Linked DNA regions of Homo sapiens. The protein of the gene in region 2 purifies or fractionates together with the protein of the main gene of each other region. This does not show direct contact. Each region holds a gene or a part of one and is shown on either strand. Other genes may lie near its edges. The genes, in order: IPO5, NOL7, WDR43 and WDR75.

Region 1 (7,023 bases), on a different chromosome or scaffold from region 2:
GACACCATCTCTTAAAATAAAAGTCTTATTTTCTTAACGTTTACCAAAAGATATTTGGGGAAAGTAGCAACTATATATAATTGTAATCATTTGCTAATTATCCTTAAATCCTTAAGTGGGCCACAGAAAGCTGACAAACATAGGATAGGTCACGTTTTCTTTTTCATGTTTTGGCACAAGTGGAAACAAAGGCACATGCAGAGAACCGAGTTTATCACCTAAGAGTACACTTAGTGCAAATACAAACAATCATGGTGAAGTCTACTTCAGTCAACACTGTCTAATACTCCAAGAAACTACAAGTTTACTAAATCTAGACATGTTTTGTATTCAGAAGTTGTAGGATATCATCGTGGAAATAAAATTTCAGTAAAGGGACCATCAGTTTGACAACCTGTTCGGTGTACTCCACAAAGCCTTCCTTTAACTCCTTAGCATAGCAAACCTGTAACCAAAGTATTGGGAGGAAATAAAGATTCATGTTAGTCTTCAAGCATTAATATTAACAAACAGCAAAATCATAAGGACCACAGGAGGTTGTATTTTGACTAGAACTACATTTAAAGTTGCATGTAGAACTGTCAAATTAGTCTTCCAACTAAAAAGAGTCTTAAAAGAAGGGTCATGAAATGATTGTAGTATTGGTGAGTGACAAAAAGAAAAAAAAAAAGGAAATTATTGTCGTATATATTGTCCCTTCAAAGGCTGGAATCATTCGTATTCCATTCAGCAAGTTTCAGCAATACATCAAACAAAATGTATCACTTAATTGAGGAAAAATCATTCTAAAAGATACAAAAAACCCTGAAACCATCAGTTAATTGAAGCATTTACTTTGTAAATCTGTAGAAAACGCTTCTGTTATTTTGTATTTTTAAAAAATCATGGCTGGGCACGGTGGCTCATGCTTGTAATCCCAGCACTTTGGGAGGCTGAGGCTGGTAGATCACGAGGTCAGGAGTTCGAGACCAGCCTGGCCAACACAGTGAAACCCCGTCTCTACTAAAAATACAAAAATTAGCCAGGCATGGTGGCGGGCACCTGTAATGCCAGGTACTTGGGAGGCTGAGGCAGGAGAATCGCTTGAACCCAGGAGGTGGAGGTGGCAGTGAGCCGGGATGGCACCACTATACTCCAGCCTGGCTGACAGAGTTAGACGGATCACGAGGTCAGGAGTTCAAGACCAGCCTGGCCAACATGGTGAAAACCCGTCTCTACTAAAGATACAAAAAATTAGCCAGGCATGGTGGCGTGCACCTGTAATCCTAGCTACTCGGGAGGTTAAGGCAGGAGAATCACTTGAACCCAGGAGACGGAGGCTGCAGTGAGCTGAGATCAAGCCACTGTACTCCAGCCTGAGCGACAGAGTAAGACTCTGTTTCAAAAAGCAAAACAAACAAACAAACAAACAAAAAAAACCCCAAAAACCCAATTGTTTCATTCTCTTCTACTACATCTAAAGATTAATTCTGTTTAAAGATGTTATTATTTGTATTTGCTTTCCAGTTGAGAGAAAAAACCCACAAAAATCCAAAGTGTTTATAATTTATAGATACTAAGTATTGAAGATGACAATAAGAAATACATTAATTTCTAAAATCTAACTTTAAAAGTAAGTATTGGCCAGGTGCAGTGGCTCATGCCTGTAATCCCAGGTCATGGCAGGCGGATCACCTGAGGTCAGGAGTTGGAAACCAGCCTGGCCAAAATGGTGAAACCTCATCTCTACTAAAAATACAAAAAGTAGCCAGCTGTGGTGGCAGGCGCCTGTAATCCCAGCTACTCGGGAGGCTGAGGCAGGAGAATCAACTGAACGCCAGAGGTGGAGGTTGCAGTGAGTCGAGATCGTGCCACTGCACTCCAGCCTGGGTGAAAAAGAGAGACTCCACCTCAAAAAAAAAAAAAAAAAAGGATTATCCTTCACTTTAAAACGCATGCTCATAAAGAAAACAAAAAGAAAACTAGGAACTAAACATGCATATGCACACCACAAACACCATAAGGGATAATAACCGAACATTTTGATTTTCCTGCCATATCTGTTTTTTTACACAATTGAAATCATACAAGTTTTGTTTCACATTAAATAGCATGAACACACTTCTGTTCATTTGTTTAAAAAACATTCCATGGCCACCTACTATAGACTAAGAACAAAACCAACAAAAATCCTTCCCTCATGTAGCTTATAAACTTTTTGTAATGGCTGTATATTACTCCAAGGCACAGTAATTCATCTTCCCACTAACAGGAATTTGGGCTATTTGTTGTTTTTTGCTATTTAAAACAGCACTGATAATGAAAGGTTTATCCATACGATTTCTTTAAAATGGAAAGAAAACTTTACTTTTTAAGGAACATATTACTGGCTCTCCAAAGTAATTTCTTTAGCAGCTATTAAAAGCACTCATATGAAATGTATATAAGATGTAAAATAAAAGTTTAGTAAAAACAGTGCTCTCTTACCAACATCTGGCAAGCAGTTGATTTTTCTTCTAGTCCTGCAGTTTTAATACCAAAGCTTTGCTGATCTCCAAGGTTCACAAATTCCCAACCATCATCATCACTCATATTCTCCATGTCTTGGGCTATTAACGGAGAAGAAAACAAATGCATATGAAAAATAATAACAAAGAGAGAACTATTATAACCGATAGCTCCTTCTAAAGACACCTACTATCTAAAAGGGCTACTTCGGGCTTAATTGAAGCCGTCTTCATTAAAGGCCCCATAACCACTGGAAGGTATTGCTGAAATTCTTTTCCAAGGATTTTGCACATTCTGGCCCATGCTGAGATCATGTAAGAGATCTGGGGAAAAATTTTAAAATTAAAATAGATTAAAAAACAATGGGTAAACGTGATAAAGAAAGCCATTTCCTTATTTCATAGAAACAATGTTTTATTGATATGTTCACAGTACTTTAAGCAGTAAGAGCATTTCTAAAGGTTATGTACTTAAAAGGTTCAGAATCAATAATGAAATCCCTGTGAACTCACTACACTGGGATATGGACAGCAGGTGAGGCAAAACACAAAGACCAGAACCTTGGGTATTTCTTTCTACTTTCAGTAAGTGATAATGGTTTTCTTTCTTAGCATCTGAATCATCTAAATGAAACTAATCACCTAAACAAAACCAAACACTTCATCAACTCCCAGTTACAAATTTTTTGAAGACAGAAATGTATTTTATCTGACTCTGTATCCCTATTGCCTGCCACTCCATTCATTAAACATTTATTAAAACCCAAGAAACAAAACATCCTTTTCTCTTAGCTGTTATAATTTTCTCATAAGTGGCTGAGTATATTTAAAACACCTCTTCTCCTATTACTGTGTTTACACAGACTTTATCATCTGCAAATTACCTAGAGAATCTGGTTCCATTCACCACCCCTGCAACCTAGAAAGTGATTCTTATCCCCTGATATCTGTCATCCACCTACCTATTTATCTATTGAGCATGCATGGACACATGCCCCACCTCTTAATGATTTTATATGTAAAAGTCCACCCGCTCTTCAGATAGGTACTGGGTGTTTCTCACATGCCAGGCATTAAACTATATGCTGGCTGATACAAAGGTGAGCAACACGCCTCGTCCTTACCACCCCTCCCTACAGCTTACAGTCCCCTCAGTCTCCCTACTGTCAGCAGTCTGCTAAGTATCCCTCCTGCCTGTTATCTCTGTACATACAAAACATACATGTATATTTGCATATCATTTTGCAAAGAAAGCAAACAACAACAAAACATGCTTTCTTTGCAAAATGGTATGTTTTCCTATTTAAACTATTACAGTGTGGCAATGTAAAGTCAAAATTTAATTCAACAATTATTTATTGAGTGCCTTGTTATATGTTAGGCATTGGGAATACCATCAAGATATGACAAACATTTATGATGTTACTATAACAGTGTTGGAACTGCCCACCATTGAGACTGAGCAGATCAGGAAAATCTTGTAAAGGATGAGAACTGTGAGCAAGCGTTAGCTGGGTATGTATACCTATGTGTGTATGTGCGTGTGTGTCGAGAGGCAGGGGTTCCTCCTAATGAAATGCCTTTGTCTGTTCGTTGGCGGAGAGGCAAGCAGTGTGTCCTGAGATTCTTGGGTTCTGTATTTTCTGCCAGGGGAGGGAGATCATGCAGCCTTCAAAGGGCTAGGAGACACCCAAATGGAGATGTCTATTACATGTTGGATAAATGAATCTTCAATTCTGAAGATCTGAAAGTTGCAAGCACACAGAGGAAACCGGAAGCCATGTCTGTGAGTGACACTGCTCCACAGGAGTGAGAAGAGAGCCTTGGATAGAACCCACAAACACCAAAACTTGAGTGAGAGTCACAGAAAGCAAGAGCAACCTACAACAGACTGAGAAAAAGTAGCTTGAGAAACAGAAGGAAAATCAGTGAAGAATGTCTCTGCTAGCAGGGGTTGATAGTATGTCAAGAAACCTATCACTCCTTTTGTTTTAAATATATTGAACCATGTGCTGTCCACAACTCATTAGCGGATCAAAGCAAATGCATTAAGACCACTTACCTGAGGATCATCATCTTCCATATCATTGAAGTCTGTCTGGGTCTTTAACAAAAGCTGCATCACATCTGATGCATCCTGCATGAACTAGAGGAAAATATGTAGAGACACACTTGTTGATACCGAATTTTGTTTCTTGTGTAATTAGCAAAGCTTTGCCAAAAAATCGACTACATTGCCCACATAGGTCATAACTTTCATAGATAAACTATCATATTGAAAAATTCTCATCTATATTGTGACAGATTTAGTTCACTTTCTAGAAAAATATATTTTCCACTGAAGGGCAGGGAACTACAGTATAAAGGTACTTCTAATGGCATCAGGTGTTAGTCTATGGCTTACGCATTTCAAGCAGTAAAACTGAATTCAAATTCAGAAAGAAAATTTTAGATTGTTTATAGAATTCACTGCATAAAATTTTGTCTATGATTTTCACTTAACTCTTTGCAGTTCTGGTAATCTCCATTGTATAAACAGGCAGCGTTTTAAAGAGACATTGAAAGCCAGATATATAGAGTATGGGACATACAAATATTTTATTGGTAAAAAACATACCAATGTTTTAGTGGTCAGCGTCTCACAGAAACCAGTTCCAAATATAAATTAATACTGATGCTGGTTTTGAAGAAGGCAAGACAGAGCTTCTCTGTTGATAATTCTCAGGGTCAGAACATGAGGATTCAATGACAGAGAAACTTCTTTTGCATTAGCTTGAACAATTCTGAGATGTTGGCTGAGAAACACACTGGCCAATGGTCCTTGGTAATTATTTTCTGAAGATCTATATGCATAGATTTCTCTCTTAGAACACTTGATGCATTTTAGATTAATAGGAAAGCAAGTGACATGTTTCCAAGCACATATTTAAAGGGAACGAACATGGATACTGACTTCCACACACCTCCCACGAGATGCACTGTGTGTGGTGGGGAAAGGAGGAGGCATCAGGAGCACAGCTGAGCTAAAAAGAAACCTTAATATTAACAATGAAAAGACGGGCTGGGCGCGGTGGCTCACACCTGTGAGCAGACTGCTTGAGGTCAGGAGATCAGGGCTAGCCTGGCCAACACAGTGAAACCCCATCTCTACTAAAAAAAAAAAATACAAAAATCAGCTGGGAGTGGTGGCAGGTGCCTGTAATCTCAGCTACCTGGGAGGCTGACGCAGGAGAATCGCTTGAACCCAGGAGGCAGAGGTTGCAGTGAGCCAGGATCATGCCACTGCACTCCAGCCTGGGTGATAGAGTGAGACTTGGTCTCAAAAAAAAAAAAAAAAACACCAAACCAAACAAACAAACAATGAAAAGATGAAGGCAAGAATTTGTATATAAAACAGGAGCAATGTGAAAGGAGTAAGGAAAAAAACAAGCATCCAGAAAACCATTTTTCAGAAGGAAAAAATCCCTCTAGTACTCTCAATGCCTCCACAGCCAAGTTAGGTACAGTAAATTTAACATAATAGAAATTACAGGCCGGGCACAGTGGCTCACGCCTGTAATCCCAGCACTCTGGGAGGCCGAGGCGGGCGGATCACGAGGTCAGGAGATTGAGACCATCCTGGCTAACACAGTGAAACCTTGTCTCTACTAAAAATACAAAAAATTAGCCGGGCGTGGTGGCGGGCGTCTGTAGTCCCAGCTACTCGGGAGGCTGAGGCAGGAGAATGGCATGAACCTGGGAGGCAGAGTTTGCAGTGAGCCGAGATCGTGCCACTGCACTCCAGCCTGGGTGACAGAGCGAGACTCTGTCTCAAAAAAAAAAAAAAAAAAAAAAAAAAAAAAAAAAAATTACTTACTTTTTCCTTCCCAACAGCCAGACCAATGAGGCTAATGCATTCAATAGTTTTTCCTCTCAGAAGTCTCAGTTCTTTTTGAACCGCATTCTCAACGATGTGCTTCAGTGATGGCATAAATAAATCATAGTAGGGGACAAATTTTTCTTCTGCAGTATCGGCAACTGATGCAATGGATGTCACAACTTGTTCCAAAACTAACTTGGTGCCTTTCTGAATCAGCTAGAAGGAAGACACAAATTATTACCTCAAAGGAAAACTGGAAGAAGTATTTAAATTTACAATTACTACTCCCTTCAAGTTCTTGAATGCTTTTCTGAAACAGCAGAATGAGACCACCTCTCCAGAAGCAGAGACTGTAGGTTTTGGAGGAAATTTCTATAAAAAGAATCTATGTTGAACTATTTATGTGAGATTTTTTTTTTCTCTCTTCTATTAACACAACACCTCTAACTCATGTTAGTCTCATCTCAAAGCACAGCTAATTCTTGAGTACAGATACGGAATCAAAATTTTTGTGTTCATCAACTTTAATGCCTACACTTCATCCTCATTTTTTTCTTCACTGATTTCCTCTACTTATGATTATATTTTGTGCTGTCTTACTACGTCATAAAGAAAATTCCCTCTTTGGCCCCTTCCTTTATCTTCTAACCCCCTCTCCCCAGAAGATCGCACGAAGGA
Region 2 (7,393 bases):
TGCATGAGGAAGTCCTGCTTTTGCTTCTTATTCATAGTTTTTTTAAACAAAAGTCCATGATTTTTCTTCTTTTTTCTCCTTCCTCTTTCTCTTTTTTCTAACTACACCTCAGAAGCTAGTCAGAAAGTTCAACAGGTGGTTTGAGAGGCTCGTTGACTTAGCTGAGATCCTAGTGGTCAGATAGTGCATGGGTATTTTTTTCTCTTGTTCTCAGTACTACCTGTGAATGCTGCTGTAATGTTTTATGTGTGTGTGTGTATATATATATATATATATATATATATATACACACACACATACACACACACATATATATACACACACATATATACACAAAAAAGTATGTATTGTGTCTATATATAACATGCCAAACATACGTGTTATATAGATACACATAAAACATATATATGTATATAAAATACATATATAACACACATACATGTATATTTTATACTTACAATTTCAATGAGTTTGGCAGTACAGTCCCAAAATACACTTTACTTGCATAGGTTCTCAGGATTTGAAAAAAACAAACAGAATACACTTTGTAATCATGTCTCTTACACTTTGAAATAAAATTCTTCTTTATGGCACATAAATTCTAGACATTTGCTTCTCAAAATTCCCCCAGTCACAGAGCCCAGCCCATAGTGAAGTGTTATAACTAGAGTTGTTAGAAGCTAGTTGAAAGAAGTGGGCATGGAAATTCATAATACCATCTTTATGAGAATTTGGGTTTTACTTCGGCTATTACTTCAGAAATAAGTGCTTGCTGAAGTAGGGCATTCATTTTGCTAACCTGTAGTTCAAAACTGCTGTATTTGCTTCTTCTCTTTCAGGTTTCATTTCCAGGGACCCTGTGGAACGACTCTTCCTGAAGCCCTTGCCTGTCATGAAAATGAAACTGTTTCTTAAGTGTCCTGGGGAAGAAAGAAATTACAGTATATCTAAGAACTAGGCCACACGCAGAGGAGAAATGGTCTTATGGGTGGTGAGCTGAGTACTGAACAATCTAAAAATAGCCTCTGATTCCCTCGCTGGAATCCAACCTGTTGATAAGTGATGGGGGTTTAGAAGTAGCAAAGAGCACCCACATTCAAAAGTCACAGAACTGGAAAGTTAATTCATATTATTTGGTTTGAACTGAAACGTGAGGTATCTTTGATGTGTATGGTTGGTTATTGGGAGGGAAAAATTTTGTAAATTAGATTGTCTAAAAAAAATAGTTATTCTGATTATATTTTTGTTATCTGGGCAAAGTAGAAGTCAAGGGGTAAAAACCCTACTATTCTGATTTTTGCACAAGTTTTAGTGGAAAATAAAATCACACTCTACAGTAGGTAATTTATTGTATAAAGACATTACCCCACGATATGGCTTTATTAGGGACTTTTTTTTTTTTTTTTTGAGACAGAGTTTCACTCTTGTTGCCCAGGCTGGAGTGCAGTGGTGCGATCTCAGCTCACAGCAACCTCCGCCTCCCGGGTTCAAGAGATTCTCCTGCCTCAGCCTCATGAGTAGCTGGGATTACAGGTATGTACCACCACACCCAGCTAATTTTGTATTTTTAGTAGAGACGGGGTTTCTCCATGTTGGTCAGGCTGGTCTTAAACTCTCGACCTCAGGTGATCTGCCCGCCTCGGCCTCCCAAAGTGCTGAGATTACGGGCATGAGCCACCGCACCCGGCTTACTGGGGGCTTTTTAACCTTGTTTGGCTACATTACCTCAGTGAACAAGGGGAAGCTCACAACAGGAACTCACACAAAGAAGGAAGAGAACAGTACCAACAAGGTAGAACATCACGATGAGAAGAAAGAATGATGCAAATATGTGGACCCCCAGGATAAACACAGCTGCCCAAAATTTAGCTCTGGCCCCCTTAGATGGGGGAAGTCAACAGTGAAGTGTTTCTCAGCATCATAAAGGCAGAAGCTGTGGTTCCTGTGGGGCCTGCCAACCGTTCCCAGATGCTGAACTCTGCTGGGAGTTTTTTCCATGGGACTTTAAAAAATGATGCCCTTAGGTTGGGCCAGACCTCTGTTAACTTCAGTAGGGATGGCACCAGGTTCAAGAGGCCAAAGAAGAGACCTGGAGCTAGTGAAGGAAACATAGGGTTTATTTGGGGAACCTTACAGGGTGGTCCAGTGGCCGCGGGCTGGACAGAACTGCAACCACTTATAAAAAGCATGCAGTTTACATAGCACTTTCACTCAGCACCCTCCCCTCAGCAGCCTCCACGTGGCAACCCTCACTTCTTAAGTTATTGCTGTCAGATGCATCTGCCATACAGGGTCATTCTCAGGGGATGCTTAAGTTATTTCTGTCAGGTACATCTTCCATACACTTTACTACCTTGGAGTAAAGTAGTAAGAATACAGCTTTTTCCTTAACCTTTACCAGCTAACTCAGTGCTTAGGGGCCTTGGAATGCCTGCTGTCCAGCAGGTGTCACAGGCCTGACTGGGAGGCATGGCCATTATCAACAGTGTATGAAGGTCACATATGGCTCCCTGAAGTGATTACATACTTGGACCACATCACCTCAGCCCCTTGCAAAATTGCATTTAATGTTACACCCTTGGCTTTTGTAGAAACAGGCAACAAGACACTATCATATAAAACTTTGTACTGCATTGCAAGGCATAACCTTTAATAAATCCCAGTGGTCCTTTGTGTAGGGAACGGGGATGCTCATAGCCTATGGGGCGGCTGGAGAACCAGTCAGGGACCCTGAGGGCTCGATGTACACTTTACATGGGTGGGCCAAGGAGTTTACACTGAGGGCACTGGTAATACCTGTAATAGTCTTATAGTACTTATAAAGCAGTTTTGCACATAAAATACCATCATGCACTTATAAGTTTGTTCTTGGGCTGCTCCAAGTTAACTTTATTCATTTTCCTAGTGTTAGTGTCTCAGGGAGTCTGATTATATTTTTGATTTGTAATTTCTATCTGACTAAGGCCTAGAGATTTCAAAACTGTTCTTTGCAATTCCTCTCATACTGAACCTCTGGTTCAGCAGCTTTTTTTGTTGTTGTTGTTTTCAAGTTTTATCATTTTTGTTCCTATTTGGTTTTGTCGTTTTTAAATTGAGAATTGCTTCTAAAACAGAAGACATGAAAAGAGAATTAAAAATACAATATATGTGTAAGATAGAATTATTCAACTTAGCATTTATTAAACATCTACCAGATGATAGACATTAGAAATAAAATGACTAGCAAGACCTGGCCCTTCCCCTCAGGGGTTCACAGAATGGCTGGAGCAACTGTCATATAAGCTGTTATGAAGTGCAGAAACTACACAGACATTTGTGCGGGTTCAGACCAGCGCAATTAGAGATGGGCAGAGTGGGATGGGGTAGGGGTAAGGTGCTTGAAATTTGCCTGGGTGGGAATTTTTGAAGTATAAAAAGGACTTCTACCTGGGGGGCTGCGGCAGTAGAGGGAAGAGCACGGTCGGTACAAATGCATGGCAGGTGTGAAACAGTTTGATTTGTTCAAAGAATGATGAATCACTTAGTGTTGTATAATGGATGGGAGGAGAGAAACACAGCGATCACAAAGGGCCATGTTTGCCAAGAAATAAAATATACTTGGAAAAAAAGTACGTATGTGTATATACCACAAAACTCGGGTGCATTCTCTAGGGACCGGCGAAGCCATTCTTTCAGGAGATATGCTCAGCATTTGCCACGGGCCAGCTGCTGTTCCAGGTCGTGGGTTAGGGCCCGGCACCAGGAAGGGCGCCCCTCCCACAGGGCCGACATCCTAACCGGCGTCGCTGCGGCCGCGGAGCTGGGAAGGCCGAGGGCGCCGGGCACGTCTGTGCAGATTTCTTTAGAGTCCAGGTCTGTCGCCCGCGTCTTCGTCGGTGGCAGCAGGGCTGACTGGCCACGGCGGCCATCTGCTAGAGCGCATTTCTTCCCATGAAACGCCACCTCCTCCGAAGTGCGGAGCGAACGCAGCCAAATCTACACAAAGACTGACAAGCTGGATCCACTCGACGGAACCCAGGGCCAAAAAACGGCGGCGAGCAGCGCCTCGGGCCCGCGATTACCGGTTTTCTGAGCACCGGACAGCGTGAGCCGTGCCAGCCCTGTCTCGCCATCCCAGCCGAGGAGGGCAGCGCGATGGCTCTTCCCTGCCTTGAAATCAACCCCATTGCCAGCCGCTTTCGCCGGCAGAGCATTTTCCGTGGGGTCCATCCGGCTCCAAGGCGGCCTGCGCTGGCCACGTGGAAAGAAACACGCCCACTGCCTACAGGCCACGCCCTTCCTCCCTTCGCGCATGCGCCCCACCCGTCCTGAGGACCTCCGAACCTGCAGGGGGCGATGAAAGTAGGCTTGCGCTCCGCTTGTAGCTGCTTCCGGGTCAGAGGTCAGACGGTCTAGCGCTGCGTGGGCCATGGTGCAGCTCCGACCGCGAGCGTCTCGCGCCCCGGCGTCGGCGGAGGCGATGGTGGACGAGGGCCAGCTGGCCTCGGAGGAGGAGGAGGCGGAGCACGGGCTGTTGCTCGGGCAGCCCAGCAGCGGCGCGGCCGCCGAGCCCCTGGAGGAAGACGAGGAAGGGGACGATGAGTTTGACGATGAGGCCCCGGAGGAGCTGACTTTCGCCAGCGCCCAGGCGGAAGCGAGAGAAGAGGAGCGGCGAGTGCGGGAGACCGTGCGCAGGTTCGGAGCCCGCTGCCCGGCGGGGAGAACCGCCCTTTCTCGTCCCGCTTGTCCTTCCCTTTGCTGACTTATCACCCTTCCTCCCAGGGATAAAACGCTCCTGAAGGAGAAGAGGAAGCGACGCGAGGAGCTGTTCATCGAACAGAAGGTTAGAGGCTAGGGAGGAGGTGTCTTATTAAAACAACTCGGCTCAGGGAGAATTCCTATGGTGGATGTAATTTGGGTTGGCAGGATATTGGAGTGGGGAAACAGTCACCAAGATTGCCTCTGACAGTGGTGGAAAGATGCTCGGGCCGGGCGCGGCAGTACTTTAGTTGGACGAGGTGGGCGGAGCCCGGGATGTCGAGGCTGCCTGGAGCCGAGATCACACCACTGCGCTCCAGCCTGGGCGACAGAGCGAGACCCTGTCTCAAAAAAAAAAAGTTCGTCTCCTTTAGTGTCCACCAACTGAAAATAAGAGGTTGCTGTGAGAATTAAATGAGGTGATTTGTAAACTGTAAGGGCTGTACAGACTTAGTGTATGGTTGCTTTGCTGTCTGATACTCGACACAGAGAGCTGGCTCCAGGCAGACATTACTTAACTGCTTTCAATTTATAACAGTGACCTGAGGGTTAGAATACCGTGGGCACCCTTTCTAGTTTTCATCAAGTCTTTCAGAGAATGTGGAGTTTTGTGGACCCGGTCTTCCCATAGCTTAGAGGTATGGGGGCAGTTTCCAGCCTAATTCATTTCTTTGCCTAGATGTAGGGCATTCTTAAAAGCGGTAACTTCAGAAGCAACTCCGGACATACTATGTACATGACTTTCTATTAATTTTAAACGTTTTCATTCCAAAAGAAAAGAAAACTCCTTCCAGACACTATTTTGGAGAAGTTAACCACAGCTTCACAGACTAAGTAAGTAATGGATCTTTTTATATTACTTGCTTATATACACCCATCTTTGAATTATATACTGGTACATTTATTTGAATCCATATAACTGAAGGAATTGTAGAACCCAAATTCAAAAGCTACCTTGGTATATGAATTTGATGGGAAAGACGGAGGTAACGTTCTACTTCTTATTTTACCATTTATTTTTGTTCATTCCCATAGCTAGCTTTTGAATTCCTGATCCCATTGTGTTCATTCAGTACATTTTGTTGACTGCCTGTCATTGTACTAGGGCATAGTGGGTGGTGGTGAATAAAAAGTGTTTTGAATCATTTAGTGGGGTAGCAGGCACTTATCCACAGGCTCTGAAAACTTGATTTGTCCCATACTTGCCTTACCTGCCACCAACCTGTCCTTCCTGTTCCCCACTTCATTTAGCATCTTTGGTGTTTTATGGTTTAAAGCGAAAAGCTATAGTCGTCTTTGGGAATTGATCAAACCCTACTAAATTTAGCCTTCTAAATTTTTTTTTTTCTATCCTCTTTTTCTCCCCTTAAGGCTTTAAATTCAGAAATTCAGCCCCCTTTTGCTTAGGCCAGTGACTCTCAAGTTTTCAGTAAAAAAACTTTACCAAAGAGTTACTCAGATCCTGAATACATTAAACGTAAGAGCAAATCTATTTGGTGGCAAATTCCCTTTCATCTTTTAAAACCAAGCTCAAGTGTCACCTTTACCTTCTCATTTGCCCCCCCCCACCTCCCATCACTTCCGCTTTTGTGTGGCCTTTCTCCTGTGCAAATGCTTCTGTATTGTATTCTGTCCATTTACATTTCTCTCTCCATTGGGCCACAGCCCCCTTGAGGCTGTTCCCTGTCTCCTGTGCCTAAACTATTAAATTAATCCTTTGTGATTTCTCCAAATGAAATGAGGCAGACCTACTCCCATTCACTTCATATTTCAAATACTTTATAACTTGTTCTGAACAAGTGTTTCACTTGAACTCCATTGCCCACAGCATTTTGCTGCTTTGAAAGCCTGCTAATAGGCTCTCAGATTTTAACTGTGAAGATCTTCCAATGCTTGAGAGTTGGTGGCAGTGTACTAGGGAGTGACTATTGCTTTCCAAACTGATGAGAGCTCCTGAGTAGAAATTGAGGGTGTTGGTAATGAAAGGGGGTGTCTTACTTGTAAAGGCAAATGAAATAATATAACATGTTTTGAGTAATCTTTACTGCCATTGCAGTCAGTGGTTTTGTTTTTTTTCCTTAGCATCAAGAAATCGCCAGGAAAGGTGAAAGAAGGTATGACTATTCTAATTTAACTAACTTCTCATGTAAGTGTCAAGTGCACTTGCAGATGTTTCCAGTCAAATATGAATGGCCCTTAGAAAGCCAGCATGGGCCTGGCCAAGGTTAGCTGGGGCCTATTCCCTGTATTTCATACAAATAAAAACTGCATCCACATTGGTGTGTAGTGGATGCTTAAAGTGAACTCCAGTAAATTTCCTGATTTATTTTTACGTGAATGCTAATTAGAAAATGTAACTCTATTTTTTAGTTAATTTGCAAAAGAAAAATGAAGACTGTGAAAAAGGAAATGACTCCAAGAAAGTTAAAGTACAAAAAGTACAGTCTGTCAGGTAATGAGTCTTTTGTTTCATTTGGGATGTAAAGGAGACCTTTAAGAGAGTTAAAGTATTGGCTAACATGGGAAAATATTTTATTTTATTTTATTTTATTTTTATTTTTTTATTTTTTTGAGACGGAGTCTCGCTCTGTCGCCCAGGCCGGACTGCGGACTGCAGTGGCGCAATCTCGGCTCACTGCAAGCTCCGCTTCCCGGG
Region 3 (7,129 bases), on a different chromosome or scaffold from region 2:
GGGACTAAATTCTTTTCTACCTATACTAACACGCAACATGATCTTTCCAGTCCCGTGGTTTCATATAGCAGCTGTATGCTAATGCATCCCAAATTCATATCTCTAACTGTGATGTTTTCTCCAAATCCCAACTCATATATCTAACTGCTTATTGAACAACCCTACTTGAATGTATAGTAGGTATCTCAAACTTAACTGTCCAAAACTGATTACATTCTAGTCAGGGAAGTAGATAATAAACACATTTAAAAATGAATCTCTAGGCTGGGTGCAGTGGCTCACGCCTGTAATCCTAGCACTTTGGGAGGCTGAGGCAGGCGGATCACCGGAGGTCAGGAGTTCAAGACCAGCCTGGCCAACACGGTGAAACCCCGTCTCTACTAAAATGCAAAAATTAGCTGGGCATGATGGCGGGTGCCTGTAATCCCAGCTACTCGGGAGAGTGAGACGGTAGAATCACTTGAACCCAGGAGACGGCGGTTGCAGTGAGCAGAGATCGTGCCACTGCACTCCAGCCTGGGTTGCTGAGTGAGACTCCATCTAAGAAAAAGAAAAAAAAAAATCTTTATTTCAGCTAGTGCAAACTGCTACAAGGAGAAACAAAGCCAGAGAAGGGAAATGAGAGCTTAAGTATTCGAAGGAATTAGGCAAAGCCTCACTCTGGCTCTGCAAGGTCAGAAGGAAGGGCAGTCAGTGTGCAGAGAACAGCAAGTGCAAAGATTGATCTCCATTCCACCCAAAACTCTTTCCCCAATTTAGCTAATGGTATCACTATTCACTTATTTGCCCAGGCATCAGAGTCACTCTTCATTCATCTGTTTTCCTCACCCTTCACAGTCAATTCATTTAGCAATTCCTGTTGGCTCTAACTTCAGATTATATCTGGAATCTGATCATTTTTCGCTACCTTCATTGCTTTCATCAGAGTCCTACCAATCATTGTCCTTGTCCCGACTACTACTCCACAGCCTTCTACCTTGTCTTTCTGCTTTTATTCTTGCCTACAGACTTCATCTAGCAGCCAGGATGTCTTTCAATAATATAAATCAGATCATGTTATTTCATTGCTCAAAACTGCAGGGGGCCGGATGTGGTGGCTCACACCTGTAATCCCAGCACTTTGGGAGGCCAAGGCAGGAGGATTCCTTGAGTGCAGGAGTTCAAGATCAGCCTGGGCAACACAGAAAGACCCCACCTCTTAAAAAAAAACATTAAAATTCTCCAGTGGCTTATTTCTATCATACTTATAATAAAATCCAAATACTTCACTCTGATTTACAAGGTACTAAATAGTCTGGCTCCCTCTGAACTCAGCTGCTACCTTTGATTTTTCTAGTTGTCACTATCTACCCTAAGTTTCTCCAAAGCTTTTTCTTTCCACTAGTCAAGGTCTTTGTTGCCTCAGTCTTTGCACTTGCTATTCTCCCCAGGTTGACTGCTCTTCCTTCTGATATTGCATGGTCTGAGTGAGGCTGTCCCTAATTCCTTTCAATACTTAAACTCTTTTCCCTCCTCCGGCTTTATTTCTCTTTATAGCAGCTTGCACTAGCTGAAATAGAGTTTTCTTTGTTTGTTTATTATGTGCTTCCCTGATTAGAATGTCAGCTTCATGAAAGCAGGAATCTTGTCTCTCATGATCACTGGTAGATTCCTGGTACCCTAAAACAGTGCCTGGCACATAGCAGGCATTCAGTTTGTTTGAGTAACTGAATGAATCCAAGTGCCAAATTAGATGTCTCAAATTTAGCATTCCCAGACTAAAGACACTATCATCTTCTTGCACAAAAATCTTCCAGGATTCACTATCCTAAGTGAATTGGGTCACCAACCAGTCTCTCCCTGTAAAAGCTCAATGAGTAATCCTTGGCCGTTTCTCTATCTCTCCCTTGGCCACTTGAAATCCGGCTCATTGTACATAATAAACACTCTTGAAACTTCCTTGCATCGCTATTTCTCCAAGCCACTCACCATCATCTCCACCTGGGGTTTCGAGCCTCCAACCTAGCTTCCTTCTAATACATTCATTACACTGTCTCCATGTAATCTTTCTAAAATGCAAATATTGGTCAGGCACAGTGGTTCACGCCTATAATCCCAGAACTTTGGGAAGCTGAGGCGGGCAGATTACTTAAGGTCAGGAGTTCCAGACAAGCCTGGCCAACATGGTGAAACCCCATCTCTAATAAAAATACAAAAACTAGCCAGGCGTGGTGGCACACGCCTGTAATCCCAGCTACTTGGGAGGCTGAGGCAGGAGAATCACTTGAACCGGAAGGTGGAGGTTGCAGTGAGCTGAGATTGTGCCACTGCACTCCAGTCTGGGCAGAGTGAGACTCTGTCTCAAAACACAAAAACAAACAAGAAAACAATAAAATGCAAATCTTACCATGCTGCTCCGTAGCTGTAAAAGCTTGAGCCTTCCCATGGCCATGAGAGTGGTTTTTATCTTTCCTGGCAGGCAATAGGCTCTGTGTGGGCTGAACAGTACCTAGCATTCCTTGAATTAGAATGCATTGATTTGGTGAATATTTAGGAGAAATATAAAAATCTACCCTTTATTTTTTGGATACAGGATCTCACTATGTCACCCAGGGTAGAGTGCAGTGGAGCAGTCATAGCTCACTGTAGCCTCGACCTCGTGGGCTCAAGCCATCCTCCTCCCTCAGCCTCCAGACTATGGGCGTGTGCCTAAAAATGTCTATTTGATGTAGCAACATGAGATAAATCTGGAGAAACAGGAGGGAATAGTTGTTCCGATCATTACTTTTACATTATTATAACTGAATACATTGTTATTTTGTAAATGATTACAGCCTGGAATTGAATAGGGGGAAACGGAAGCAGTTGTTACAATCATTATCAATTTGAAAGTGAAGACTTCTTTTCTCTCTCTTTTTTTTTGAGACAGTCTCGCTCTGTCACCTAGACTGGAGTGCAGTGGCGTGGCGATTTCGGCTCACTGCAACCTCCACCTCCCGGGTTCAAGGAGTCTCCTGCCTCAGTCTCCCGAGTAGCTGGGACTACAGGCACACACCACCACACCCGGCTAATTTTAGTATTTTTAGTAGAGACAAGGTTTCGCCATTTTGCCTAGCTTGGTCTCGAACTCTGACCTCGGGCGATCTGCCCGCCTCGGCCTCCCAAAGTGGGATTATAGGTGTAAGCCACCGCGCTCGGCTGAAGATTTCCTTCAAACCTTTCGTTCTACCTTATCATTTTCTTTAAAGTTTTAAAAAATTGTTATTTATTTATTATTTATTTTTTTAAGACGGAGTTTCACTCTTGTTGCCCGGAGTATAATGGCGCGATCTCGGCTCACAGCAACCTCCATCTCCCGAGTTCAAGCGATTCTCCTGCCTCAGCCTCTCGAGTAGCTGGGATTACAGGCGTGCGCCACACGCCTGGCTATTTTTTTTTTTTTTTTTTTTTTTTTTTTTTTTTTGAGACGAGTCTCGCTCTGTCGCCCAGGCTGGAGTGCAGGGGCGCGATCTCGGCTCACTGCAATCTCCGCCTCCCGGGTTCAACCAATTCTCTGCCTCAGCCTCCCGAGTGGCTGGGATTACATACAGGTGCCAACCACCAAGCCCGGCTAATTTTTTTGTATTTTTAGTAGAGACGAGGTTTCATCATCTTGGCCAGGCTGGTCTTGAACTCCTGACCTTATGATCCACCCGCCTCGGCCTCCCAAAGTGCTAGGATTACAGGCGTGAGCCACCGCGCCCAGCCCACGGCTAATTTTTTTATTTTTAGTAGAGACGGGGGTTTCTACATGTTGGTCAGGCTGGTCTCGAACTCCGACCTCAGGGGATCCGCCCACTTCGGCCTCCCAAAGTGCTGTGATTACAGGCGTGAGCCACCGCGCCCGGCCCCCCCCCTTTTTTTTTTTTTTTAAAGGAACAGGACTTGATCTTAATTCTACAATTACTTTCTCCCATACTCCCACTCCCGCCCAGAACAAGATAGCGACAGGCCCTAGCGGGCCACCGTCCACAGGGCGGATCCGCCAGAAGCTCTCCTGCGACGCGAAGATCCACTCCCTGAGCCCCCGGCGCTCCCTCCGCCTCACTTCCTCCTCCAGGCTCCGCCCCGCGCCGGTGCGCCTGCGCACGGACGAACACGTGGCTGCAGCGGGGCCAGAGCAGCAATGGCGGCGGGCGGCGGCGGTAGCTGCGACCCCCTGGCCCCTGCTGGGGTCCCTTGCGCCTTCTCCCCGCACAGCCAGGCCTACTTCGCTTTGGCCTCTACCGACGGTCACTTACGAGTATGGGAGACGGCCAACAACCGGCTGCACCAGGAGTACGTGCCTTCCGCGCACCTCAGTGGTACCTGCACCTGTCTGGCCTGGGCGCCAGCGCGGCTGCAGGCCAAGGTAAAGCGAGCGGGACTGCGCGGGGCGGGCGCCTTCCCGGGCTCGGCTTCGGGCCTCCGGGCCGGGTGGCGCGTGGTCCGGCATCGCGCGTGGCTCTCAGCGGCCCGGGCCAGAAGGCTTGGAGGCGGCGTCGGCGCGTTCAGGGCCCAAGCCGCCAGCCCCGCGTGCGGCCTGCCGCGAGGGCAGTGAGGGAGGGCGCAGCTCGACCCGGCCGGCCTCGTATCCGAGCCCTGCCGGCTGGCCCAATGAGGCCTGGGCCCCACTGTTGACGGGCAGCCATGTTCGCCAAGTCCCCTGGTCCCCCTGGGGCGGCTTCCTTCTGCCGGGCCTTGGCTCATCAGAGTTCTGGTTTTTGACAGAGCCCCATCTTGGGACTATCTAACTTTCCTCTGTCTGTGATCCGGCTCATCAGTTTTGCACTGGGCAGTTGGTATGGACTAGTCTGTACTTGCTTCCGGACCTTCCCCCTCCTGCCCCCCCTTTGGGTGCCGGCTCACCACGTGTTCTCGTCCCCGTCCAGGTTGTGGGACTCTCAACTCTTAACTTTTGCCTTTCCCAGGCACCTCTACATTCTCAGCTTTTTGAACTCACTGCTTTTTGATTTTAACATCTGCTCGCCCCTCCCGCCCCGCTTTCAAGCCGATCACACTGCTCCCCACCCACCCCAATCTGAAGTCTGTATTAGGATGTGGAGGTTAAGTGAAGTAGTAGCTTGATTTAGTGAATGTTTTATGAGTGCAGATGAAATTACCCTTAGATGGAAAACTGCCGAGTTAGGCAGAGCTTTTCATTGTTAGGGACCCGTGTCAGGTAAATGCCTTTCACTGTTGAGTCACTCAGCTACATCTCTCTAACTCAGCATGCACGTGGTTATTGCGTTTACAGAGTAGCCAAACCGAATCACTGCAAAGTGATTTGGAAACATCAGGTATCCTGAGGTGTGTGATGTGAGCTGTTTCAATGTGGAGAACTGTAAAAGCTATTTAGGATCTTACTCTCTCTGACGACCTGGGAAGCCTGCTAAATTTTTGGGTTGGGAAAAGGGATACATATAAGTTGCTATACTTTGGGCATGTTTAGATATTTTTCAAATTTTAAGCTACATTTTCATAGTTTATCCTGTTGATTCATAAAATAAACCTATCAGGGCTTATAAGTCAAACATAAAACTAAAAAAAAAATCAGTTTTTATTGTTAAAATTACAGCGCTCTGCTTATCTTTTATTTTCAAAGTTTTCTGTGGTTGTATTTTAACAGTCCTGTAAAGTGATAGTAATACTAATGCTGAGAGAAATACGGAGCAGTGGTTAGGTAGGTGCGTGGACCCAAGCTGGCTATATTGTCTATATTTGATTCTAGCCTCTGCTTCATAGTGGTAATTGCCCCTCTGGTTCCTCATTTATGAAATGAGGATAATAATATCTTCTTCATAGAGTGGTTGTGAAGGTTAATATATTTAATAATGCAGAGAACACTTAGAATAGTTCTTGACAGGTAAGTGCTTTAAGTGTTAAGTATTATTAATATCTGATATTTGTGTGGTTAGTCCTGAAGTGTTGATAAGGAACTTTCTGCCTTGTTTCGGGGAAAGAAACAGAAACTCTGGGAAACTAAGCAACTTGAATAAAGTAAAAAATGGAACCAGGATTAGAACTCAGGTCCTTAAGAGCTCGGTTCTTGGTTATCTGCAACAGATAGTTAATATTAGGTTGGAAAAAATGTCACCCACTTTGCTTTTCTGTTGAGTTTCAGTTGCATTGTATGCCCAAGAGAAATTTCCTAATCTCATATTAAAAGTCATAGTTTTGGATTATGTGCAACACTATGGTAAACTAGAAAAATAACTGGATTTGGTTTCATAGCCCAGACTCAAAACTTACTTTGTCATATTGAGCAAGTTGTTTTAATTTTGAGGACCTCATTGACAAACGAGAGTTGAGCTACATTAAACAAAATTTTTTTCTAGGTTTCAGCATCGTTTTATCTGCACTGTCTCCTTTTAACCACATGACTATGGAATCCCCTGAAATTAATTGCATTTTAAAAAAACTGATTGAAAATCAGAGCTAAGAAAGGTAAATGACTTGACTCAAGCCTTAATAACCAATAAAGGAGTGTGGCCTCTAGAGTCATGGTGCCCCGAACTCCTGGTCAAGTGCCCCGATTTTGTTACTCTCAATCTTGAGTCACAGAACTGAGAGAGCTGGAAGGAATGTAGAGACATTCCCTACTTTGAGGGTGTGTCCTCTTGGAGCATCAGTTTGACTTATAAACTAAGGAGAGACAGTTTTCTTGTATTAAAACAAACTTGCACATATATTATGGTATAAAATTAAAAAGTCATATGTACTGTAACAAGATATCTTAGAAAAAAAAGGCACATGTTAAGGTGCTCTCATCTTATTAAACCCTTCCTTTTATTTTACATCTTTGAGGCTTAGTGTATGAGGCATGAAAAGGATGTTGCTCTGAACCCACTTTCCAGCATTTTGTTAAGGTCCTGCTATATGATGACATATAGTACTCTCAAATTTGAAATAGAGGTATCATCACCCACCTTTTAGGATCCTCAGGATCAAATTAGGCAATGTATGTGACTGGTGTAGTATGGCCTAGTATGTAATAAGTGGCTTAATAAATGTTATTATTGAGTGAATCTGGACTCGTTTTACCATTTAATTTGGCATTTAATATGGTAAATCAATTTGTAAGAAAAGTATTCTATGTTTGGTTTAGTAATTGGCAGTTTGCTACGCAAGG
Region 4 (7,777 bases), on a different chromosome or scaffold from region 2:
ATGGAGCTGGAAGCCATTATCCTCAGCAAACTAACACTGAAACAAAAAAAACAAACACCACATGTTCTCACTTATAAGTGGGAGGTGGTGATGAGAATACATAAACTCATAGAGGGGAACAACACACACTGGGGCCTGTCGCAGGGGTGGCCGAGTGGAGGGAGAGCATCAGGAAGAATAGCTAATTTGATGCTAGGCTTAGTGCCTAGGTCATGGGTTGATCTGTTCAGCAAACCACCATGGCACACATTTACCTATATAACAAACCTGCACATCCTGCGCATGTACCCTGGAACTTAAAATAAAAGTTGATTTAAAAAAAAAGAGAGAGAGAAAGTCTGAACGAGATAGTCTTTGAAGCAGACACCACTGTGTTCCAAGATCAGCGCTACTGATTATAAGCAGAATGATCTAGGGTAAGTTAGCATAGTAAGTCTTAGGTTTTTCACCTATAGAACAGAAATATCACCTCCAGGGCTGTTGAGATAATTAGAAATATATGAAGCATCAAGCACGTGGCTGGCCCGTGGGAGGCACCAACTGAGAGCCATTTGTATATAGAGCTGCCATTAGATTATTTTTTAAAGTAGTACTTCTCAAACTTAAATATGCATAGGAATCACCTGCAGATCTTGTTAGAATGCAGATTCTGATCCCACATATCTGGGTAGGGCATGAGTTTCTGCATTTCTAACAAGCTCCCAGGTGACACTGCTGTTGCTGGTCCACGGACCACACTTTGTGCAACAACATTTCAAACCATTCTAAAATTTCGCTTTAGCCACTGGGTACAAGAGATCATACAATTTTAATCTATGGGTTTAATCATAGCCAAAACAGAAAAGGTGTAATTATAACCATGAGAACTGTTAACCTTAAATGGAACATAACCCGCTTGTGATAATCATCACTTAACTGCCTGAGGTTCCTAGGGCAGAGGTATACAAGAGAGAAAGTGCAGAATGAAAAATATATGGGATAGATAAGGATTTCAGCATCATAGGAAACCTAAGAAGAGATAAAAATTGCACCATCATTAGGGAATGAGGAAACATAGCAGAGCCCAAGGGCCTATCACTAAGTAATTCATGACATTAATACAAAATCGATGTAATCTGCTTGAAGATGTCTCCTATGTACATTATGCAGGGTAGTGGTGTGAAATACTGTACATGGTGTTTATATCTGTTGAAGGGAACAGAAACATACATGAAGATACTAAGCAGTAAAAATGTGACTAAATCCTTCTCACTAATGGGAAAGCTTTTAAAAATTTTATTAAATAAAAAATAAATAAAAATAAAAATTTTAAAAGAGAATGCTCAAAACTCAACAAGAAGATAACCAATAAAGCAATGCGTGAAGGACTTGATGACACTTCACCAAAGAGGATATAAAATGATGCTCAGCATTAGTCATTAGGGAAGTGAAAATTAAAACCACAATGAAATACCACTACAAACTTATTATGATGGCTAAAATAAAAAAAAAAAACCTTGACAATACCAAGTCCTGACAAGGGTGTAAAGTAACTAAAACTTTCATACATTACTTATGGAAATGCAAAAATAGTACAGTAACTCTGGGAAAAAAAGAGTTTGGCAATTTCTTAAATAAACATACACTTATGATTTGAGCAATCTCATTTGCTGGTATTTATCCTAGAAAAATAAAAGCTTATGTTCACACATAAACCTACATATGAATGTTTAGAGAAGTATTATGCATAATTTCTAAAACCTGGGGGTAAAACACATTCAACAAATAAACTGTGAAATAGCCATACAATGGAATACCACTCAGCAATATAAAGCACTGATGCACATAACATAAATGCAATATGCTAACTGAAAGAAGCTAGACTGAAAAGGTTACATACTATATGATACCATTTATACATGGCTTTCTGGAAAAGGCAAAACTAGGGATGGAGAACATTAGTGGTTGCCAGGGGATAGGTCTTGGGGAGGGGAAGGAGAAATACTGGGGAATTCTTTGAGGTGCTGGAATTCTTCTGTATCCTATTTGTGATGGTGGATACGATAATTTGTGCATCATAGATATCAAAGAAAGCAGATTTTATTGTATGTAAATTTTTAAAATTAGCCTAATCGTTTCACTTTTTAACACAAAGGCTACACTGTCTTCAATTTCAGAGTAAAACCCAAAGCTGTTACAATGATCTAGGAGACCCTATGAACTGGCCTCTTATTACCTCTCTGACCTCACCTTTTACTATACCCCCTTGATGATTATTCTCCAGCCACACTGGCCTCTTGACTTATCTTGAACATGGAAAGGAATACTCTTTCCTCTGGCTGACTCTTTCACCAAACAGCTCCATGCTTATTCACACTCTCAACCTTTTCAGGTTATTTCAAATGTTACCTTCTCAGTAAGGCTTTCCCTGAAAACCCATAATAAAGGTGATCAAACCCTTATAATCACTTTCTTTTCTACTTTGAGTTTCCCCTTGGCACATAAATACATCAAAAGTATAATAAGTTTTTGTTTCTTCCCATGATAAGGTAAGGTCCAGTAACATACAGATTTTGTTAACTATTTTTCTCACTCCAGTATTCCCAGAGCCTGAAAGAATGTCTGGCATATACTAGGCACTTAGTAAATATTTCCTGGATGGAAGATGCCAAATAAGTGTTTCTGGAAAATCCTTTTCCTTCTGTATATAGGCTATGCTCTTTCTTGCTATTCCCTTATTTCTTCTAACTGAAAGGAACATGAACTGTGAGCATAAGGACAAAACCAATATGGTTAAGGACAATAACACAAAGAACAAAGTAGAGAAAGCACAGGTCCCTGGTGGCATGAATGATCCACTGCACTAGCCCTATTCTGCCTACCTCAGCCTTCTTGTTACATGATAAAGACAACGCACTATTAATTAAACAGCTGTAGGTGGGATTGGTTCCTTAAAAATTATGTAAAAAGAAATCAAAATACAAATGACTTATCTTTCTGGGCACTTCAGTAAATTAAAACTCTGTGTAAAATAATCCTCCTATACATTTATCAATCCAGCTAGTTTTTGTCCATATCAGGATTTCTGATTCTTTTCTGAAAAATCTAAAGTTACCATACAGTAACATACAACTAAAGTCACACTAATTTGAGTGAAAATATTTATTTTGTTTCTTGGCTCAGGCCCTAAGGAAAAGCCTGTATCAGGTTACAAAGTACCCAACAAAGTCTTTAAAAGATTTATTGTGCATACATCAAGAGACTAAACAAAAAGAGGTTAAGGCTGCAGAATCAAAAGTGATATTTTACACTCCATCCACTGTGACAAAGGGTATCACAGTCATGAAAGAGAAAGCTGGTTACAGCTTGAGATAAACCAAAATTATTAAATATCTCCCTTTCTAGTTCTGGCTCCCCAAATAATAAAGTTTTGAGCACTTTAATAAGCTAGACTCCTCAGTAAAAAGTAAATTTATCCCTGATTTTTACAGTGGTGCTGTCCCAGGATATGTCTTGACCTTTGTGAATATTGTATTTCTCCACCATAAATAAACTTATAGGTATAATCATGTGTGGCTTAATGATGGGGATATGTTCTAAGAAATGCATTTTAGGTGATTTCATCATTGTGTGAATATCACAGAGTGTACCTACACAAACCTAGATGGTACAGCCTACTACACACCTAGGCTGTACGTTATAGCTGATTGCTCCTAGGCTACAAATCTGAACAACATGTTACTGTACTCAATATTGCAGGCAATTGTAACAGAATAGTATTTGTGTATTTAAACACATAAAAGGTACAGTAAAAACACAGTATTATAATCTTACGGAATCACCATGTTATATGCATTGATTGAAAGATCCTTATGTGACATGTGACTATATTTGAGACCTTGGTAATTTTGTGGTAAATCCACAAATCAAGAAGCGAAATCAAAATAGGCAACATAATATACAGGGTCCAAGAATATGATACGTGTAAGTTTACAAAGGAAAACTGGAGATAAACTGGCAAAAATAAACATGTTGAGATTTTAGGGGTTCCTAACCCACAGATTCTATTCACTAATGGGAAAAGGTAAAACTCAGGAAACCAGAGACCAGCGCCCTGAAACCTGGCGGGACTGGCCGAATGTCAGATTAGCCCGAGCAGCTACACTGAACGCTGCGGAAGATGCACCAGAATCCCGGAGTAGGAGCCAGATTTCCAAAGGAAGAAAGCTAGGCCCTAGGACTGTGGAGATTCTGTAGTAACCTAAGCGATGTTCACAAGAACAGAAGAACGGCTAATGAGAGGAACAAAAAGCTGTACAAGGAAGAGAAAGCTACCTTTCCACCCAATAACTCAACGCTGCGACCGAGAAAACCAGGGACGCGAGAGGCTCGCGTCATCCTGCAGCGCCGACACCACAGACACTAGAAAGCGACGCCTCCGGTGGGACGACTGGAGGTCACGTGGTACACTATACGCCACCTTTCCCTTCTGGCGGAAAAAGCCATAGAGTCAGGTTGACAAGGCCTGAGAGAAATATGTCTGTATTAAATAATTGTGTATAGGTATATAATAAAAACTGATTGTCTCTAAATCTCTGTTTTGCTTTCACCTTTTCTTACAAGTGTCTTAGTTTGACATTGCCCACACAAAAGGTGCCTGCACGGAAGCGGAGTCCTACCACCGAGTCTCAGGCCTAGAAGGGCCCGGGGGTGGGTTCTGTGGGCTGGGAACAGCCTTATTACCCGGCTCAACGAAGGAAGTTCAGGGCGGGACCAGAGATTGGCCATTCCGCTACTGCGCAAAGATGGTGGAGGAGGAGAACATCCGCGTGGTTCGTTGTGGCGGCAGCGAGTTGAACTTTAGGAGAGCTGTGTTCTCTGCAGATTCTAAGTATGAGGGGCACCGCGCTTTGTCGGCTGAGGGGCGGGGCGTGAGTTTCTCGAGGGTCGGGGAGAAGGAATTGTCAGTCGCGTTCGGACTCGCCCGCCTGGCGGATATCGGCTTTGGGTAGAGCACGCGCCTGTGGGGGATCCCCAGGGTACCTGGGAGGTCCCGTTACCACTGCAGATTGGGTTGCGTCCCCCGATTCCTGGACAGTTTACCTGCAGGTAGATAAAGGCCCTGGAGCCGGTCTCCGTGTCGAGGATCTGGAAGGTGTTCGGGCGGCTGGAAAATGGTCCAGGGGTGGATGTGTATGCCACTACCTTTGCAGTACCTACTCTTTCGTACAGAATCATGTTTTGGAGTGACTAAAACCTAAAACTATTCCGCTTTTTCTACCCACTCCTCACTCCTGAAGCATAGTGCATGAAGCATAGTGCAGTCTTTTCGGAACTTTACATGAAAACAGATGTTAGATTCTTTATGAGATAAAAATACGCTAAGACTTGGTCTCTTTTCTCAGTGTAGCTGGAAACCAAACCACTCCCTGGCTTCAAAATCCACTTCTTACATTATGAAACCTTTGTAAGTTTCTTAATCTTTGCCTCAGTTGCCATCATCTGTAAAGGGGGACAATATTTAGTTCATCTCACGTGGTTATTGGGAGGATTAAATGCCTCAATATGTTAAAACTACAGACAACAATGCCCGGCACATAATGGCTCAATGTATGTAGCTGTAATCATTATTACTGTATTGTCAGGTTTTCAAATAACTTTAGGTAGGGTGGCACTTAATAAAATCAAAAAACCCTTTCTGCCTTAGAAGAGTAGAGATAGTATTTTATGAAAGTTTGTAGCCTCCACAATATTCTTTTTTTTTTTTTTTTTTTTTTTTTTGATGCAGAATCTCACTCTGTCACCCAGGCTGGAGTGCAGTGGCTCAATCTAGGCTCATTGCAACCTCCGCCTCCCTGGTTCAAGCAATTCTGGTGCCTCGGCCTCCTGAGTAGCAAGTATTATAAGCGCGGGCCACCACGCCCGCTAATTTTTGTATTTTTAGTAGAGAGAGGGTTTCGCCATGTTGGCCAGGCTGCCCTGGAACTCCTGGCCTCAAGTGATCTGCCCACCTGAACCTCCCAAAGTGCAGCGATTACAGTGAGCAACTGTGCCCGGCCCACCCCCACAATATTCTGCATATGAGTGTACGACAGGTAGTTGTTGAAGGTAATGCAAGCATGACTGAAAGAGCTTTTATAAATTGCCTTAGAAGCCAAAAAAAAATGAGTCCTGTGGCTTTGTTGACATTGATCTTATGAATCAAAGGAAGAAACAGGCTTTAAGAGGCTGTCACACTGTGACGCTTCGGACTCATATCCATGTAACCAGTACTGTTCTTATACCTTATTCATTATAATGAGGTCCATTGTGTGTTTGATTTGCTAAGCCCAACAATTCATTTTTTAAGTACTTGTCAACTATATATTATGTATAACATGCTGCAGTGACAAAAACTAAGATAATTTTAATATTGATCCTGCCTTCGAGGAGCTTACAGTCTAGTGAGGAAAAGGAATACTCAGTAACAGATTTTTCTTACTGTGGTCCTGTAGGAAGGAGCTCATAAGAAGAGATTACTTCCCAAACTAAGAAGGACGGAGAAGATTGCTGAGCAAATGACATTTGTGCTAGGCCTAGATGATATTTTAAGTGGGGAATATGGACAGAAGACATTTCAGGTGGGGAGGACAGTGTAAGCAAGAAAGACAGAAGTGATTTCTGTTGAACAGGCTGGTACAGTTAGCTAGTAAGAATGGTATATATTAAGGGAGGTAGTGGGAAATGAGGTTGGAAAGGACACGTGCAGCCAGTTGTTGGTTGTTGTTTGGACCAAAGAGAATGGTTTTTTAATTCTTTAAGGGGACGGCGGTAATCAGTTGTAATTTGATTGTGTTTCTTCAATAATGTTAACCTGAAAACTGTAAAACTCTATGATACATGTTGGTGAGTGGAGAAATGAGAGCTGGGTAGGCTGATGTACATAAAGTACAGTGATGGCATAGAAGAGGGAGTTACATAGTCAGTTTTACCTTCAGTAGTGGTTCTTGCAGCAATGGCAAGAGTTTGCCTCACCAGTAATACTGGGGGATGGAATGCCAGGCAAACAAGCTTGAAATCTGGGGGCCTTGAAAACTGGGGGGATTGAGCCTTCTATGTAAAGTCAGTGTAATTGCAGCATAGGGTATAAGAGATGGCAGGAAAAGACTCTGGAAGAATAGAGACCAGGGGTTAGAAGACCAGTGCAGGCATCCAAGCAAGAAATCACTTTTGCCCAAACTAAGGTAATATTGAACATGGAGAAAAGAGACAGGGTTTTAGAGTGATTTCACAGTCAGTGTCAATGGGGAGATAGAGTTCAGTTCGGGGTTATTAACTCTAAGGTACCTGTAAAACAACCAGGTGGATATAGCTAGTAGTAGGTAGAAATTCAGGACTGAAGTTTGGAGAACTTGGTCAAGATTTAGAGATTTTTTTTTTGTCATCTATATATAAGCTAATAATTAAAACCATTTATCTAACAAATGACAGGATTTTAATGAACTCAGCAAAGATTTGAATATTATCTACAAGGTACCACAAGGGATTGGCTGCCTTATACAAAGAGGAATAATTTTGTATTTTACCTCAAGGTGCTTATCAAGAAAGCCAAAATCATAAAAAGACAGACTTGTGGAATTTTGGCGGCTTCCTCTTGAAACTAGAACAAAAACTCTGTTCTAGGTACTTGAGTAGGTTGTTCTGAGGGGCATGTGGGTATACATGTAAGTTCCTGGTGTTCCCATATTAGATATTACTGACTCTCAGTCCAGTTCTGTTTGCATCCCATTCTGCGGCATCCCACAGTTATATGGTGCTG

Evidence for each region.
Region 1: the proteins of NOL7 (region 2) and IPO5 purify together in Homo sapiens (affinity purification with mass spectrometry; 3 studies listed by BioGRID and IntAct, with this or other methods). This does not show direct contact.
Region 3: the proteins of NOL7 (region 2) and WDR43 purify together in Homo sapiens (co-immunoprecipitation; 3 studies listed by BioGRID and IntAct, with this or other methods). This does not show direct contact.
Region 4: the proteins of NOL7 (region 2) and WDR75 purify together in Homo sapiens (co-immunoprecipitation; 3 studies listed by BioGRID and IntAct, with this or other methods). This does not show direct contact.

What each region holds. Positions count from the first base shown.
Region 1 is NC_000013.11:98,005,668-98,012,690, reverse strand, and holds part of IPO5 (importin-5), read right to left. Parts: intron 6,562-7,023; coding exon 6,343-6,561; intron 4,633-6,342; coding exon 4,549-4,632; intron 2,811-4,548; coding exon 2,678-2,810; intron 2,589-2,677; coding exon 2,467-2,588; intron 446-2,466; coding exon 349-445; intron 1-348. UniProt on the Homo sapiens protein: Functions in nuclear protein import as nuclear transport receptor. Serves as receptor for nuclear localization signals (NLS) in cargo substrates.
Region 2 is NC_000006.12:13,610,951-13,618,343, forward strand, and holds the start of NOL7 (U3 small nucleolar RNA-associated protein NOL7), read left to right. Parts: upstream 1-4,384; 5' UTR 4,385-4,408; coding exon 4,409-4,674; intron 4,675-4,761; coding exon 4,762-4,822; intron 4,823-5,512; coding exon 5,513-5,571; intron 5,572-6,819; coding exon 6,820-6,851; intron 6,852-7,107; coding exon 7,108-7,189; intron 7,190-7,393. Other genes in the region: SIRT5 (NAD-dependent protein deacylase sirtuin-5, mitochondrial), read left to right, coding at 840-915.
Region 3 is NC_000002.12:28,890,555-28,897,683, forward strand, and holds the start of WDR43 (WD repeat-containing protein 43), read left to right. Parts: upstream 1-4,112; 5' UTR 4,113-4,144; coding exon 4,145-4,369; intron 4,370-7,129. UniProt on the Homo sapiens protein: Ribosome biogenesis factor that coordinates hyperactive transcription and ribogenesis. Part of the small subunit (SSU) processome, first precursor of the small eukaryotic ribosomal subunit.
Region 4 is NC_000002.12:189,436,709-189,444,485, forward strand, and holds the start of WDR75 (WD repeat-containing protein 75), read left to right. Parts: upstream 1-4,765; 5' UTR 4,766-4,784; coding exon 4,785-4,870; intron 4,871-7,777. UniProt on the Homo sapiens protein: Ribosome biogenesis factor. Part of the small subunit (SSU) processome, first precursor of the small eukaryotic ribosomal subunit.